Regions from separate parts of the Homo sapiens genome. Here region 2 is linked to region 1. A link means that fine-mapping ties the variant in region 1 to the expression of a gene that starts in the linked region. Tissue or cell type: whole blood. Region 1 holds a variant in brackets; the other region holds the start of a gene. All regions are shown on one strand. Distances are between the middles of the regions.

What was found. PIP is the estimated chance that this variant, and not a neighbour inherited with it, causes the effect.
Region 2: MAP4K2 starts here. The variant in region 1 is fine-mapped to the expression of MAP4K2 in whole blood (INTERVAL, PIP above 0.99).

Annotation. Positions count from the first base shown.
Region 1 is chr11:64,766,364-64,774,363 of GRCh38, reverse strand. SF1 (splicing factor 1) reads left to right here. Exons shown (of 13, transcript NM_004630.4): 3 at 859-934; 4 at 3,956-4,108; 5 at 4,311-4,400; 6 at 4,755-4,938; 7 at 5,026-5,141; 8 at 5,235-5,342; 9 at 6,078-6,258; 10 at 6,520-6,793; 11 at 7,113-7,172; 12 at 7,285-7,464. Among named protein-coding and RNA genes, the nearest start is that of SF1, 8.2 kb to the left of the region's middle. RefSeq lists enhancers at 1,539-1,628, 6,881-7,754, 7,755-8,000. The variant A/G (reference allele first, on the strand shown) is at 3,490.
Region 2 is chr11:64,798,589-64,806,588 of GRCh38, reverse strand. MAP4K2 (mitogen-activated protein kinase kinase kinase kinase 2) reads left to right here and starts at 3,375. Exons shown (of 32, transcript NM_004579.5): 1 at 3,375-3,535; 2 at 3,647-3,704; 3 at 3,936-4,026; 4 at 4,106-4,170; 5 at 4,468-4,523; 6 at 4,832-4,879; 7 at 4,968-5,010; 8 at 5,406-5,478; 9 at 5,558-5,689; 10 at 5,763-5,825; 11 at 6,197-6,278; 12 at 6,373-6,480; 13 at 6,906-6,984; 14 at 7,110-7,168; 1 more. The coding sequence starts at 3,440. MEN1 (menin 1) reads left to right here. Exons shown (of 10, transcript NM_001370259.2): 7 at 221-357; 8 at 819-954; 9 at 1,391-1,555; 10 at 1,773-3,073. The coding sequence ends at 2,255. RefSeq lists silencers at 3,236-3,415, 3,566-3,745, 6,518-6,812 and enhancers at 5,256-5,305, 5,396-5,445.

The DNA.
Region 1 (8,000 bases):
CAACTTTTGTGAAACCCTCATCTCTCTTTTTCATGCACAGCCTCATTGGTCAAGGCCCGAGGGCCAAGTACATTGTCCTTGAACACACATTCCATTCTTCTACACGCCTGCTCCCCATATGAACAGTGAGCCTGAAAACAAATTCTTAGCACTTTATGGTTACTGGTTTATTAAGATATGTGGTTTGTCATTTAATATTTGAATAAATATTTCATATAATTGAATAAGAGCTGCAGGTATTGGGAGACCCTTACTAGTACAGGTCTGGTTGTACAGAAAGAGTATGTACAAATTTCTATAAGGTGTTGAATTTTGTTATTAAATGTCTTATTTAAGGAATTTTAAATGTATTAATGAAAATGATCTTTGCTCAATTGGTATTTTTCCTTGTCCCATGTTAATTGGGTCTCATTTTGGGCTATGTTTAACATTTAATGAAGAAAAAACTCAATTCTTGCCCTCAAGTAATTTGATGGGAGTCGGGTATTGGTGACGTAACATGGTTTATGGTTCTGGGTACCAATGGTAAGCAAGCCTTGGTGGGGAGGAAGAGGTGAAACACCTCCTAATAATTGCTTGGATGTTAGCCTTAGTGAACAGTCTTTATTGCTAACCCCTCTTCCAACAAACTGTTTGCTTCCTTAAGTGATAACCATTTTGAAGTGAAAAAAACCTATAGATGTAAAAGGACTCCTGCCGATAGGTGGTTGGGGGTTTTTGCTTCAATGTGTTCACTGATCAGTCGTCCCTTTCAAAGTCTCCGAGTTCTTCATGCTTGTTGTTGAGATTTGAGATGTTTATTGGTAACATTGTCTTTTTTCCATCCTTTTTTTTCTTTCCTAACCTGGTTTCTTCCAGTGCAACTGCAGATAGAAGACCTGACTCGTAAACTGCGCACAGGAGACCTGGGCATCCCCCCTAACCCTGAGGACAGGTTGGGAAACAGTTTTAACCAGCTGACAGTAACGCTTTTACCTTTTTCTCAATACGTTTTACTGGTGGCAACATATTGTGTCAGTTCAATAAAATCATAGTATGACGACTGTACCCTGACCACTTTGGGGATTAAGGTTTAATTAGAAATATGTATGGTCAGTCAACAGTTAGAAAATTGGAATAAAACTTAAAAATGTTGGGAGAATAAAAAGTTACAGGAAAATGGACAACTGGTTTCCAATTGGTAAGCATGTAGATCTTAACCTGATTTACCCACCCTTAGGGGACAGTGAGGTGGCCCGTTAACCTGCCTTTTCAGTACCTGCTTTGGCCAAAAGCCCAGGGCATAGAGTTTTTCTCACAGGTACACAGTGCAGGGACTAAAAATATTTTTGAGCATCACTGAACTTGAGCAAGCCAGGAGCTCTGGTCAGCTCATTGCTGCAGTCTTCCTGCTCATGGTTTTGAGATGGTTTCAAAATCAGATGAGATTTCTAACCAACTTCTTTCACTGCCAGTTAACTTTCAGCCTTGGCCATTGCCTTGGGGGTGTTGGGAGGGGCCAGAATATTCTCACCTATTTTGGGAAGGCATGCAACCAACCCTAAATTACTTTTTTTTTTTCCTTAAAGGGAGCGTGGGCCTCAAACAGCTGTGGTCATGTCATTTCAGTTTGCAGTTTCTCTCACCTCAGAAAAATAAATTGTGTGGGGGAGATGAACTTTTTTAAACTGGAATTTTATTAGCTGATTGAACAGCTAAAATTGGTCATTTAATTAGAAGGGCAGTAAGTCTCTCCCTCTCACTGAATTTTCTCTTAGTACATACAGAATAGTTGAAAAGACTTTGCTTTAAAAAGTAGTGTTTTTGGTTTTTGTTACCCAGTTAATAGCTTATTAAATCAGGAAGATGATGTAATGGCTTTAGAAGTCACTCACTCATGCATCTTTCTTCCGCCCTTTGCCAGGAAACATTAACTTCCTTGTTTCTCCATATTGACTCTTTAATTTGACTTACTACATTTGCTATATTTTACCTATAGATAGATTTTGGTTGTAGGGTTGTGTTGTGTTTCGTTTCTTTTTGAAGATTTTTTTTTTTTTTAAATTTACATTGTAGGTCATAGACCACAACTGTTTAGTGCCTTTTTGGCCTTTTTCCCTTTAATAATATGTCTACAGGTCACCAGTCAATTCCTCCAAAGGTTGAATTTTTAACAAACCTTCTTTGCTTCCTGGATAACTGGGATTAGAATTTAGTTGATCTAGCCGATGCCTGTTGGAGGTGAAGAAGTCGGGCCAGTCTAACCTCTAGAATACTAGCTTTTGCCTTTCACTTCTGCAATTTGGGAGGAGGTTAAACTGTTGTGAGGCCTTCACATGGCCAATTGGGTGCTGGTAAGACTTGTTTTTGTAACTAGCTAAGAATGCTTAATTCTAGACAGCTGTGGGGTGGGAATTAGAAATGTCAAGCATGTTAGAAATAAAACCAGAGCAGGGTTTTTCCTCCCTTCTATTCAGTTTTGAAAGAGGCCCTAATGCCTGATTGGTTTTGCTTTTGAGCCCAGGTTGGAGGGAAATGCATGGGTTTTCTTAATTAAGATAATTTCTTAAAAAGGTGTTATATCACTTAAGCCACTTTATTGTTATTTTGATGCTGCTTAACTTGCACAGTAAAAACATGTTTAAAACTTTTCTTGTAGACTTAAATGTATAAGATGGTAGTCTAATGAGCTGGGGTATGTTTGCTTTTGTTCACTCTTAATGGATTGTGCTAACAGTTTATACAAATGCTAGAAACGGAGGTGTCATTTAGCCGTCATTAGCCATGAACAAACCTGACCTTTTATTCCATCGTGTGTGTAACGTGGTGTGACATGGTTCCCTTTAGGCTGAAGACAGTGGGAGCAGCCGAGTTCAGTCCTTGCTCTCCAACTAGGCAAGGTTCTCTCAACTAAACCAAGGGTATAGGAGTCTTGATTACTTTCAGTATGTTTTTTTAATAACCTGATCCACATGGTCTCTTCCCTTCTTGCAGCTGCTACTAAATTTTCATTCAGAATATCAAGCTATGGTCCTTTTTGTAATCTTAACTCAAAATTCTAGGAGTGTAACCTCTCTTTTTTATTACCGCAAAATCCAGCTGTGGTAAACTGACCATTTTATCATTACATTTTTTTACTTGTAGCAACAGCATTTTACTCCTTAAAAAAATGAGAGAGAGAAAATCTGCTTTCTGGACTTGTAAACTCTGGTGGAGAATCATAGGTTTTCCCCTTGCTGTTTGCAGGTTCAGACCCTAGACAAGTATGACCAAATCTGCATTTGCAGCCTCTCGCAGAAGCTGCTTTAGCACTTTAACGTTTTTCTCTACCCAGACTCCCCAACCTCGAACAGCCAGAAAACAGGTTGTCTCCTGGGCCTTGGACACAGCCAGCCAGGCCATTGAAGGAAAAGCAAAGACGAAGCGAACCATCTCTCTCCATTGTGGGGGCCAAGTAGCTGCAGTAGCCTTCAGTCCCAGTTGCATTGGGTTAAAGAGCTCATACATACT[A/G]TGTGTTAGGGGTACAGAAGCTTTTCCTCATAGGGCATGAGCTCTCCAAGAGTTAACCTTTTGCCTAAACTTGGGGTTTCTGTGGTTCATAAAGTTGGGATATGTATTTTTTTTCAAATGGAAGAAAATCCGTATTTGGCAAGAAGACTCCAGGGGATGATACTGTCCTTGCCACTTACAGTCCAAAGATTTTCCCCAAAGAATAGACATTTTTTCCTCTCATCACTTCTAGATGCAAAATCTTTTATTTTTTTCCTTTCTCACACACACCCCAGACCCCTAACGTTAAGCCAGCTTCCATCTCCCCATTCCACACGATCTTGAGTAGCACACGTTATGGTCGGTTCCTCCGAAGAGTGTTGTATTAGGGTCTGAGAGGCAGAGGGGCTGGGAAAGACTTGTTATAGTCCGTGTGGGAATGAGAGAAGTCGGTGCAGAATAGTAAACGGGAGTCTGTTTCCCACAGGTCCCCTTCCCCTGAGCCCATCTACAATAGCGAGGGGAAGCGGCTTAACACCCGAGAGTTCCGCACCCGCAAAAAGCTGGAAGAGGAGCGGCACAACCTCATCACAGAGATGGTTGCACTCAATCCGGATTTCAAGCCACCTGCAGATTACAAGTAAGCGGAGGGGCTCGGTCATCTGGGATGAAGACACATGCAGATCATGGGTGACCTGCTGGGATGGGACAGTATTGGTACTACTCACCTCTTGCCTCAAGTCACCCATAATTAGCACTTGGTACCAATATTTGGTTTTAGAAAAGCCGCTGGCTGTGTCATTCTCCAGAAATGTGCGGTGACACAGGCTTTTCTTTCTTAGACCTCCAGCAACACGTGTGAGTGATAAAGTCATGATTCCACAAGATGAGTACCCAGAAATCAACTTTGTGGGGCTGCTCATCGGGCCCAGGTGAGTAACTGCTGGTCTATAGGATATAGAATTCCTTTAGAGCCTGTGAGATGTGTCCGTTTTGTGCCTAATTGGGGACTGTTGGCTTACTTTTCCCCTTTTTGGTAGGACATTTCATTTTGGCTGAATTAATGCCTTTCTGTGAGAAGGTGTCTTAACTTCCCCACTAGTGCGGAGAAGTCAAATCCTCAGGTTTACTGTGGCTGACCATAATATAGAGTTCATGGAGCTCTTGGTGGGAAAATCCAATTCTCTGCGCTTGTGGTTTCCCACCAATGCCAAATTGGTCCAGCCTCTCTTCCCTCTTGAGTGTGAATTTGTCAGGTATAAACTTAGTCATTTCTGCCTCTCTAGAGGGAACACCCTGAAGAACATAGAGAAGGAGTGCAATGCCAAGATTATGATCCGGGGGAAAGGGTCTGTGAAAGAAGGGAAGGTTGGGCGCAAAGATGGCCAGATGTTGCCAGGAGAAGATGAGCCACTTCATGCCCTGGTTACTGCCAATACAATGGAGAACGTCAAAAAGGCAGTGGAACAGGTGAGCGGTGAGCCCAGAAAGGAAGCCTCCTAGCAGAAACCTAGGTGGAGGCCCTAAGCACTTAACTGTCCATTGCATTTTCACTAGATAAGAAACATCCTGAAGCAGGGTATCGAGACTCCAGAGGACCAGAATGATCTACGGAAGATGCAGCTTCGGGAGTTGGCTCGCTTAAATGGGACCCTTCGGGAAGACGATAACAGGTATGTGATCAGTTTAAAGGAGAGTGTAGAGACCTGAAGAACCTATGGAAGTAGAGATTGTTCCCTTGCATTGACCTCTTTTTCCTTTAATAGGATCTTAAGACCCTGGCAGAGCTCAGAGACCCGCAGCATTACCAACACCACAGTGTGTACCAAGTGTGGAGGGGCTGGCCACATTGCTTCAGACTGTAAATTCCAAAGGTGAGGGGCTGGCTCTTGCGGTTTCCTGGTAGCCTGCGATGTGCAGGACAACTTTTCTGGCACATTCATTGGTTGCTGTTAATCTTACCAAGAGAAACATCCTTTCTGTTAGTGTGGTCTGTAATGGTGTGATTTAAAGCCCAGGATGATTAGAAATAGGCTGTACAGATACCCCTGTTTGTTTGTCTTGAGCCCAAGAAAACTGGAAGTTTCCATTTTGGGTATGTTTTTACTGGGGCTCAATAGGAAATTCACTGCTTTTGCTGTTCAGAATTGGTTCAAGAAGACTAAGCAATCTCTACAGATTTCTGACCAGTTGCAAGTCAGCACTCGATATCAACACTTTCTGACTGGCTGGCGAATATGTAAGGTTTTGTTTAGGAAGTTCGTTCTGGCAGTTGTGCCAGTCTTGCATAGATTTTCCTTTCCTCAAACTGGGAATGAAGTTTGATGAAATTGACTTGAGAGAACCTGTGCTTCATCGGTGCTCAGGGTCTCCTGTGCTCTTCGCCCAGGGGCCCCTCTACTCTGGTGATCCCAGATGCAGAACTGGGCACGAAACTGAAGATCTGATGAGACTGTTGAGAGCCATGCCCAGTAAGGGGTTAGAAAGATGTGTGATGATCTGGTGATTGAATTCTTCAGAACTTTCCATATGTTGGTTCCTCAGGATAAAAGCTTCCTTCTTAACAAGTTTTTCCCCTTTCTCTGTTTGTGTCCCCCACCCCACTTCAGGCCTGGTGATCCTCAGTCAGCTCAGGATAAAGCACGGATGGATAAAGAATATTTGTCCCTCATGGCTGAACTGGGTGAAGCACCTGTCCCAGCATCTGTGGGCTCCACCTCTGGGCCTGCCACCACACCCCTGGCCAGCGCACCTCGTCCTGCTGCTCCCGCCAACAACCCACCTCCACCGGTGAGCCTGGGGGCTGGCTCTCTTGGTCTGGCTTCCCCATTCTCTACTGCAGAGACTGGGAGCTATGGCCACGTGGTTTGGGTAGAGCAGACAATGGATGTGGATGGCAACATTGTTCTTCCGGGATCTCAGGCCAGTTTGGGGACTTCTCACTTCGGGAAGACCTTGTTCTTGTGTTCTGGTCCTGTGTCATAACCCGAAGAACAATGTTGCCACTAGGAGGCGCAGGCAGGGACGTTGGCAGGAAATGCTCTCACGTAGTCTCTCATGTCTACCACCCAGAGCCGCCCACCCTGGATGAATTCTGGCCCTTCAGAGAGTCGGCCCTACCACGGCATGCATGGAGGTGGTCCTGGTGGGCCCGGAGGTGGCCCCCACAGCTTCCCACACCCATTACCCAGCCTGACAGGTGGGCATGGTGGACATCCCATGCAGCACAACCCCAATGGACCCCCACCCCCTTGGATGCAGCCACCACCACCACCGATGAACCAGGGCCCCCACCCTCCTGGGCACCATGGCCCTCCTCCAATGGGTAAGTAAGTGTCAGACCAGAAACCTTGGGGGCTTTGGGATAAGCAAGGGGTTACGTCAGGTCGCTGTTGGCTAGAAGCAGCTCTCAAGTGGCTGGGCAATGTGCTGGGTCTGCCTGGCTTGCCAGGGTTGTGGCTCTGGAAGGAGCAAGACTCCATTCTGGTTCAGGGAGTGATTCTGTGTTGGGTAAGCACAGACCTGCCTTTTACAGGCATGGTTTTCAGAACTCGCGTAAGGATAGCAACTGAGGTTATCACAGGGGTGGCTTCCCTGGCCAGTTCCAATGTCCTGCTAAGTCCCTGCTCTTTCCTTCCATCAAGATCAGTACCTGGGAAGTACGCCTGTGGGCTCTGGGGTCTATCGCCTGCATCAAGGAAAAGGTAATGGCTGTCTGCTGGCTGTGGGTCTTCACCTAGGCTTGGGTGAGTGGGGGTTCTGGCCCAAGTCCCCGCCTTTCCCTGAGGCCTCATCTTTGCCTCCACCTGTCCACAGGTATGATGCCGCCACCACCTATGGGCATGATGCCGCCGCCGCCGCCGCCTCCCAGTGGGCAGCCCCCACCCCCTCCCTCTGGTCCTCTTCCCCCATGGCAACAACAGCAGCAGCAGCCTCCGCCACCCCCTCCGCCCAGCAGCAGTATGGCTTCCAGTACCCCCTTGCCATGGCAGCAAAGTGAGTAGAATATTTTGGGCTTGTGGGGGTGGGTGGGATGGGGGTGGGGCTGACAGGAACCATAGAGCCTCACACAAGCAGGCAGGTGTCTTGGGATGAGCCCCTGGGCTCTGCTGGGGTTGTAAACAGAAAGGGCCTCCTGGTCCAGGGGGTGGAGGGGCATCTTGAAGAGGAGAGCTGATGTTTGGTGTGGTTGTGTCTGGGGAGAGGTTCGTGGGGGCCTGGAGGGGAGCCTGCTATTGTAGGTAGGGGGCCAGAAGTCCAGACCCTCGCAGGCTGAGTGAGCGGCTGGCTGGACTGAGCCTGGTGCATATGGGTCGAGTGGGATGGTGCATGCTTGCTCTGGCAAGGGCTGCGATTGGGGTGAGAGACTGCAGAGGTGGGACTGGGCAGTGGGGAGACAGCAGCTGTGGCCTTGAGGTTGAATGTGCCGTTCGGTGGTGGCGGCGGCTGGGCGGAGGGACATCAGAGCTGTTCTTGTGTCTGGTACCTTCCCCTCAGCCCTTCCAGGGGCATTGGTGACAAAGGGCTTACTC
Region 2 (8,000 bases), 32 kb before region 1:
CCACCCCTGCAGTCTGCCCCAGGCCTCAGCCAGCAGTCCTGTAGACCCAGGGAGGAGACCAGGTAGAAGGGCTGGCAGCGAGTGGAGGTGGGAGTGGAGATGGAGAGGACTCCCTGGGATCTTCCTGTGGCCCCTTCTGGGTGTGCCCTGGTGGGGCATTTGTGCCAGCAGGGCAGCTGGGGCTGCCTCCCTGAGGATCCTCTGCCTCACCTCCATCCAGGGCATTGCCTCAGCCAAGACCTACTATCGGGATGAACACATCTACCCCTACATGTACCTGGCTGGCTACCACTGTCGCAACCGCAATGTGCGGGAAGCCCTGCAGGCCTGGGCGGACACGGCCACTGTCATCCAGGAGTGAGGATCCCCCTACTAGGGCCTGCAGCCTGTCCTTTCTTCCCCTCCATCAGTTTCCAACCACCCTCGTCCAGGACTGAGGCCTGGCTCCCACGCCCCATCCCCTTTCCATCCAGTCCCTAGGCAGCAAGGCCACCATTACCCAGGAGGTAGGGACCCTGATTAAGGTGTCACATCTTTCCCTCCCTCCCCTCTCCTCCTAATTTTTTTTTTCTCAGAACAGTCTCAAATCTCCAATGTTTAACCACCATCATCCAGCAGTGGGACTTCCACCCTCGGCCCCATGCCCCCCTCCTCATTCTTGCTTTCTTCCTCTGGGCTGACCCAGACAGCATCATTTTGCAGTGAGGACCCCACCTACTCCCCCAGCCCCTGGGGGCTCCATCCCCCGCCAGGTCCCTGGGGCTACCCCCGATGGTGAGACCCCTTCAGACCCTACAGAGACCCCACTGCTCTCACAGCTACAACTACTGCCGGGAAGACGAGGAGATCTACAAGGAGTTCTTTGAAGTAGCCAATGATGTCATCCCCAACCTGCTGAAGGAGGCAGCCAGCTTGCTGGAGGCGGGCGAGGAGCGGCCGGGGGAGCAAAGCCAGGTGAAAGGCTGGAGCTCCAGCCTGTGTCCAGCCTCCCACCTGGACAGGGCTCCCTTCCACAGGCCATGGGGGCTGCATGTACGGGATTAGGGATGGCAGGAGGAAGGTGGCCCTGAGCAGACAGCTATGTTCCCTTTTGCTATAACTGAGGTCCTGGGCCCACGTTGGACGGGACTGAAGGTATTTTAGAGGTTTCTACCCTGTGCCTTCAGTTTCATGGCCAGACTCCCTCCCTCAGCTGAGGGGTGGAGGTAGGGATGGTACGTCCTGGCTATGGATTGGCTTTATAAAAGGAAAGAGGTTCTAAGAATGTTCCCAACCTATGCTTACCTTTTCTGGAGCCAGGGGTCTTTGCCTAGGTGGGGGGCCTGGCCTGTGCCCTCTGCTAAGGGGTGAGTAAGAGACTGATCTGTGCCCTCCCTTCCCCCTCGTCCAGGGCACCCAGAGCCAAGGTTCCGCCCTCCAGGACCCTGAGTGCTTCGCCCACCTGCTGCGATTCTACGACGGCATCTGCAAATGGGAGGAGGGCAGTCCCACGCCTGTGCTGCATGTGGGCTGGGCCACCTTTCTTGTGCAGTCCCTAGGCCGTTTTGAGGGACAGGTGAGGGACAGCTGCACAGAGGTCTGGGCACTACAGGTGGTGACAGCAGCCACGGGCTTGTCAGACTTTTCTGGCCCAGGGGCAGCATCTGCCCATCCCCTTGGGTGCCGATGGGACTGAGACCCCCTGGGTGGGATGGGATGGCCAGAGCAGGGTCCTGGAGTTCCAGCCACTGGCCGGCAACCTTGCTCTCACCTTGCTCTCCCCACTGGCCCAGGTGCGGCAGAAGGTGCGCATAGTGAGCCGAGAGGCCGAGGCGGCCGAGGCCGAGGAGCCGTGGGGCGAGGAAGCCCGGGAAGGCCGGCGGCGGGGCCCACGGCGGGAGTCCAAGCCAGAGGAGCCCCCGCCGCCCAAGAAGCCAGCACTGGACAAGGGCCTGGGCACCGGCCAGGGTGCAGTGTCAGGACCCCCCCGGAAGCCTCCTGGGACTGTCGCTGGCACAGCCCGAGGCCCTGAAGGTGGCAGCACGGCTCAGGTGCCAGCACCCACAGCATCACCACCGCCGGAGGGTCCAGTGCTCACTTTCCAGAGTGAGAAGATGAAGGGCATGAAGGAGCTGCTGGTGGCCACCAAGATCAACTCGAGCGCCATCAAGCTGCAACTCACGGCACAGTCGCAAGTGCAGATGAAGAAGCAGAAAGTGTCCACCCCTAGTGACTACACTCTGTCTTTCCTCAAGCGGCAGCGCAAAGGCCTCTGAACTACTGGGGACTTCGGACCGCTTGTGGGGACCCAGGCTCCGCCCTTAGTCCCCCAACTCTGAGCCCATGTTCTGCCCCCAGCCCAAAGGGGACAGGCCTCACCTCTACCCAAACCCTAGGTTCCCGGTCCCGAGTACAGTCTGTATCAAACCCACGATTTTCTCCAGCTCAGAACCCAGGGCTCTGCCCCAGTCGTTAGAATATAGGTCTCTTCTCCCAGAATCCCAGCCGGCCAATGGAAACCTCACGCTGGGTCCTAATTACCAGTCTTTAAAGGCCCAGCCCCTAGAAACCCAAGCTCCTCCTCGGAACCGCTCACCTAGAGCCAGACCAACGTTACTCAGGGCTCCTCCCAGCTTGTAGGAGCTGAGGTTTCACCCTTAACCCAAGGAGCACAGGTCCCACCTCCAGCCCGGGAGCCTAGGACCACTCAGCCCCTAGGAGTATATTTCCGCACTTCAGAATTCCATATCTTGCGAATCCAAGCTCCCTGCCCCAAATAACTTCAGTCCTGCTCCAGAATTTGGAAATCCTAGTTTCCTCTCCTTCGTATCCCGAGTCTGGGACACAAAACTCCGCCCCCAGCCTATGAGCATCCTGAGCCCCGCCCTCTTCCTGACGAAACTGGCCCCGGATCAGAGCAGGACCTCCCTTCCGACCCTCTGGGAACCTCCCAGAGGTCCAGCCCATCTCGGAGCATCCCGGAGGAAATCTGCAGAGGGTTAGGAGTGGGTGACAAGAGCCTGATCTCTTCCTGTTTTGTACATAGATTTATTTTTCAGTTCCAAGAAAGATGAATACATTTTGTTAAAAAAAATATAAAGCGCAAGTCCATGTTTATCTGGGAAATTGGGGATGGGGCGGGGAGTGGAGCGCCCCCTCTTCCCTCTGTCTTCTGGCTCCCGGGACTTTGCGCTCCCTACCTGTGGAGCGCGAGCGACAGTGGCGGCGGAAGGACGTAGGCTCCGCCCCGGCCTTGGGGCTTCCCCGCGCCGCCGAGGGCCCGTCCCGCGGGCGCCTCCTCCCGGACTGGCGGTGGGGCATCCCCGGCGCGGCCCCGCCCCCGGGCCTCAGCCCCGCCCCCGCGGCCTCAGAGCCACGGGCGCCCGCCCCGCCCCGCGCCGCCCCGCGCCGGCTCCGCAGCTCGCGCCCGCCCGCCTGCCGGCCCGCCCGGCGCCGGGCCATGGCGCTGCTGCGGGATGTGTCGCTGCAGGACCCGCGGGACCGCTTCGAGCTGCTGCAGCGCGTGGGGGCCGGGACCTATGGCGACGTCTACAAGGTGCGACGGGACGGGCGGGAGAGCCGGGAGGAGGGTGCCAGCCCCGCACCCCGCGGCAGGATCTAGCCCCCGGCCCCGCCCCCCATCCCGCTTCACCCTCCGCCCCTGCAGGCCCGCGACACGGTCACGTCCGAACTGGCCGCCGTGAAGATAGTCAAGCTAGACCCAGGTGAGGGCCCGGGTCGGGCCTCTGCGCCAGAGGAAGGGCAGAGCGCCCGCGGGCGCGGGGTGCGGGCGGAGGGTTGACGTTTCCGAGACCCCTGAGAGGCGTGCCCCGGGAGGTGCTGTCACCTGCACCTGCCTGGCCCGGAGGGAGGCACTCTGTGCCCATTTTGCAGATGGGGGCACTGAGTCAGGGCAACCCCAGCGCGCCTTCCCCATGATGCTTTGTGCTTCCCAGGGGACGACATCAGCTCCCTCCAGCAGGAAATCACCATCCTGCGTGAGTGCCGCCACCCCAATGTGGTGGCCTACATTGGCAGCTACCTCAGGTGAGGCTGCCTTATCCTCCTGGCCCCAGGCAGCCCCCATGTGACCTGCTTTGTGCCCACCCCAGCTCTTTGTCCCTAGGAATGACCGCTTGTGGATCTGCATGGAGTTCTGCGGAGGGGGCTCCCTGCAGGAGATTTACCATGGTGAGGCCAGGGCTCCAGGCCCCAGCAGGCCCCAGCCTTCCCCCACCCCTACCCCACTGGGGTACCAGAGGGGACTCTGGGCCCTGGACTTGGGCTCCTCTCCACTCCTGCCTGGCTGTGTGACCTTGAGAGAAATACTGTCCATCTCTGGGTTCAGTATCCTAGACTAAACTGGGAGGGGACGTGGCCAACACCGCTTTCATTTAACAGTGCCTGCTGCTTTTCCCACACACGGTAGCCTGGGAGGGTGGGCATGACCCCCGGGCCCCCAAGCCAGCCTCTCCCTTTTCCTTTCAGCCACTGGGCCCCTGGAGGAGCGGCAGATTGCCTACGTCTGCCGAGAGGCACTGAAGGTAGCTGGGCCTGTGAGGTGCCCACACCTCTGGTCTCCAGAAGCTGTGGGCCAGGAGCCCAGATGACCAGCAGGGAGGCGGGTGGAGTGCCTCGGGTGGGGCTGGCCCGAGGGGCTGTAGGTCCTGGGGAAAAGGGGCCCCAGCCCTGTTGCCGGAAGCAGTCCATTTCCCTCTTGGCTCAGTCACTTCCTGTTTGGGGAGAGGGGAGGAAGAAGCAGCCTGAGTGGGGGGCCCCAGTCCTGAGAGGGGGTTTGGGGAGGTGGGACAGTGCTGGGTGGCTGCTCTCAGGGACTCCTCTTTGTCGCCAGGGGCTCCACCACCTGCATTCTCAGGGGAAGATCCACAGAGACATCAAGGTAGGCACCTAGCTGGGGGCACTCCTGGGGAGGGAGGAGGAGGCCCTCGGGGGCACCAGATGGGATTGTCTCTCCTCCATTCCCACAGGGAGCCAACCTTCTCCTCACTCTCCAGGGAGATGTCAAACTGGGTCAGTACCCTGGGGACACCATCAGGGTGAGGGCTCTGTGGACCCTCCCCGGCTACCCTGGACTCAAGGGTTGGGTGTCACTGGGCAAGTCACTTTGCCACTTGAGTCTCAGTTTCCCTGCTTAGAAGATGGAACGGTACTCCCTCCCTGCTGGAAAATAGAGGAGGTTGGGTCTGCACGGAGTTGACATGGGACCAGGCACTCCGTCAGGGATAGAGGGTGGTTGACCCCTCTCAGGAGAGGGACCTGGCCTTGCCTAGGGCCTGCGGCAGCTGTGACCAAGCGGGGCCACCTGCCCGTCTGAGCCCTGCCAGGTGCAGCCGAGCCAGAGCCCTGGGCGTGGGAGGGTGAGTGGCAGCCAGAGGGCTGGTGAGAGTGGCTGTTTCTCCCCACAGCTGACTTTGGGGTGTCAGGCGAGCTGACAGCGTCTGTGGCCAAGAGGAGGTCTTTCATTGGGACTCCCTACTGGTGAGGCTGCGCCTGGGGCGGAGGGGTAGGGGCCACAGAGCAGGGCACCCGGCCATCCCATCTGTGACCCCACCTCTAGGATGGCTCCCGAGGTGGCTGCTGTGGAGCGCAAAGGTGGCTACAATGAGCTATGTGACGTCTGGGCCCTGGGCATCACTGCCATTGAGCTGGGCGAGCTGCAGCCCCCTCTGTTCCACCTGCACCCCATGAGGTCAGCCCAACACTTGCCCCTCACCTGACCCTTGATCTGCGGCCTGTGGCCCCTGACCTCGCGCCCTCCACAGGGCCCTGATGCTCATGTCGAAGAGCAGCTTCCAGCCGCCCAAACTGAGAGATAAGACTCGCTGGTAAGGGCCACACCCTGCTGCCGGGACCCCCTTTTCTGTCAGCCCCATAGTGGACAAACAGCCTCTGCCAACTCCCGGGGGGCAACCCCAAGAGCCCTGTCCTTTCTGGGCTACTACAGACCATCTGAGTCAGGGGCCTGGTCCTTCTGTGGGTTGAAGACCCAGCGTGGTCAGGAAAGAAGGGCAGAGGGTTGGTGGAGGAGCCGCTGTGTCGCAAGGCAGCGTTGCTCGGCCAGTGGCCCTTGGCCTCGGCTGGCTCCTTCCTGGGTGGGCCCAGCAGACGCCTCTGGAGGGGTGGTAGGGCAGCTGGCAGGACACCCTGCACGAGGGCTAACCTGGATCTGGCGCTGGGGGGCTCTTGTGCCTTCTAGGACCCAGAATTTCCACCACTTTCTCAAACTGGCCCTGACCAAGAATCCTAAGAAGAGGCCGACAGCAGAGAAGCTCCTGCAGGTGGGAGGCAGGGGGCCGGGAGAGAGGCCCAGTACTCAAAAGCAGGGCCCTGGATCAGGGGCCAACCTGATCACCCCCCTCCCCCACTTTCCAGCACCCGTTCACGACTCAGCAGCTCCCTCGGGCCCTCCTCACACAGCTGCTGGACAAAGCCAGTGACCCTCATCTGGGGACCCCCTCCCCTGAGGACTGTGAGCTGGAGGTAGGTGAGGGGGGCTGGAAAGTGAGTCTTGGGCTGGTCTGCTTAGAAAGAGCCCGAGGGTGATGTTGGTGGAGGTCCTTTAACTGGCACCATTCCAGCTCAGGGAGCTGGCCTCAGCTGAGCCCTCCCATTAGGAGTCTCTGTCATGCTGACTTTTGTTTCCTGTACCACCCCCTTGATAGGTCCCTGCCCTTGAGTCCAAGCTGACCATGACCACGACTGTGCCATTTTCTTGCTTTCTGTGTGATCTTTGGCACTGCTCTGTGTGGGTTCTCTCATCTGTGAAGTGGGGTTCCATTTTATTTTACAGTAGTCCCAGAGGGCTGTCATGAAAGCAAAACGCACTGGTGCGTGTGAAGCTCCTAGAGCAGCCCCGGCATGAGGCGCGTGCCAGGTGTGTCCACACTGTTTCTGTTTTTCCTTAGACCTATGACATGTTTCCAGACACCATTCACTCCCGGGGGCAGCACGGCCCAGCCGAGAGGACCCCCTCGGAGATCCAGTGTGAGTCTGCAGCAGGGGCTGTGTGTGTGCAGATTTTGGGGGGCCTGTGTGCACATGGATTTGGTGTGAGTAGAGGTCCATCCTGAGACTCCAGCTCCTTCACTCTTGTACTCTGGGCCCCCCAGTTCACCAGGTGAAATTTGGCGCCCCACGCAGGAAGGAAACTGACCCACTGAATGAGCCGGTGAGTGGGCAGGCCTTGAGGGGAAGGTGGTGCCCAGAGGTGGGGCAGGGAGGTCGGATGGAGGCCGAGCAGCTCAAATCAAGGGAGATTTGAAGCTGGGTGGCCTCGGGCCTTGGGCCTTAGACTGTCCAAGCAAGCCTGTCCTACCCAGGGACCTGGAGGGTTAGGGGCTCCTTCCTGGGCCAAGTTCTTTTAGGTGGGTGTCTGGAAGGTAGCACAGAGACCATGCCTTTCCCAAAAGGAGGCCGTCATGTGCCTGAGCCCTCACCCTACCCTGCTCAGCCTCGTTTTCCCACCTGTGTGTCCCCAGTGGTCTGACTTTCTGTCTCTGCCCTCATCGGCTCTGTCACTGGTCTCTCCTCACCCCCCAGCCTGTCTCTTCCTCCCTCGCTGTCTGTTGCCCTTTCTTTCACAGTCTTCAGCTCTGCCTCCCACTGTCTGTCTCTCTCATCTTCTGTGTGTTTCCATCTCACCTTTCCCGTCTGTCTGTCTGTCTGTCTTTCCTTTCCTGAATCTCTTGAGCGCCCTCTCACGTTGCATCTGTCTCTGCTTCTTCCCCGGTCTCTACCTTGGTTTCCCCCAGTGGGAGGAAGAGTGGACACTACTGGGAAAGGAAGAGTTGAGTGGGTAAGTGAGGTATGGGGAAGCTGCAGGGGGTGGCAGGGGCGGCAGAAAGGCTGACCTCTGACCGGGCGTGGTGGCTCATGCCTGTAATCCCAGCACTTTAGGAGGCTGAGGTGGGTGGATCACCTGAGGTCAGGAGTTCAAGACCAGCTTTGCCAACATGGTGAAACTCCACCTCTACTTAAAATACAAAAATTAGGCTGGGCGG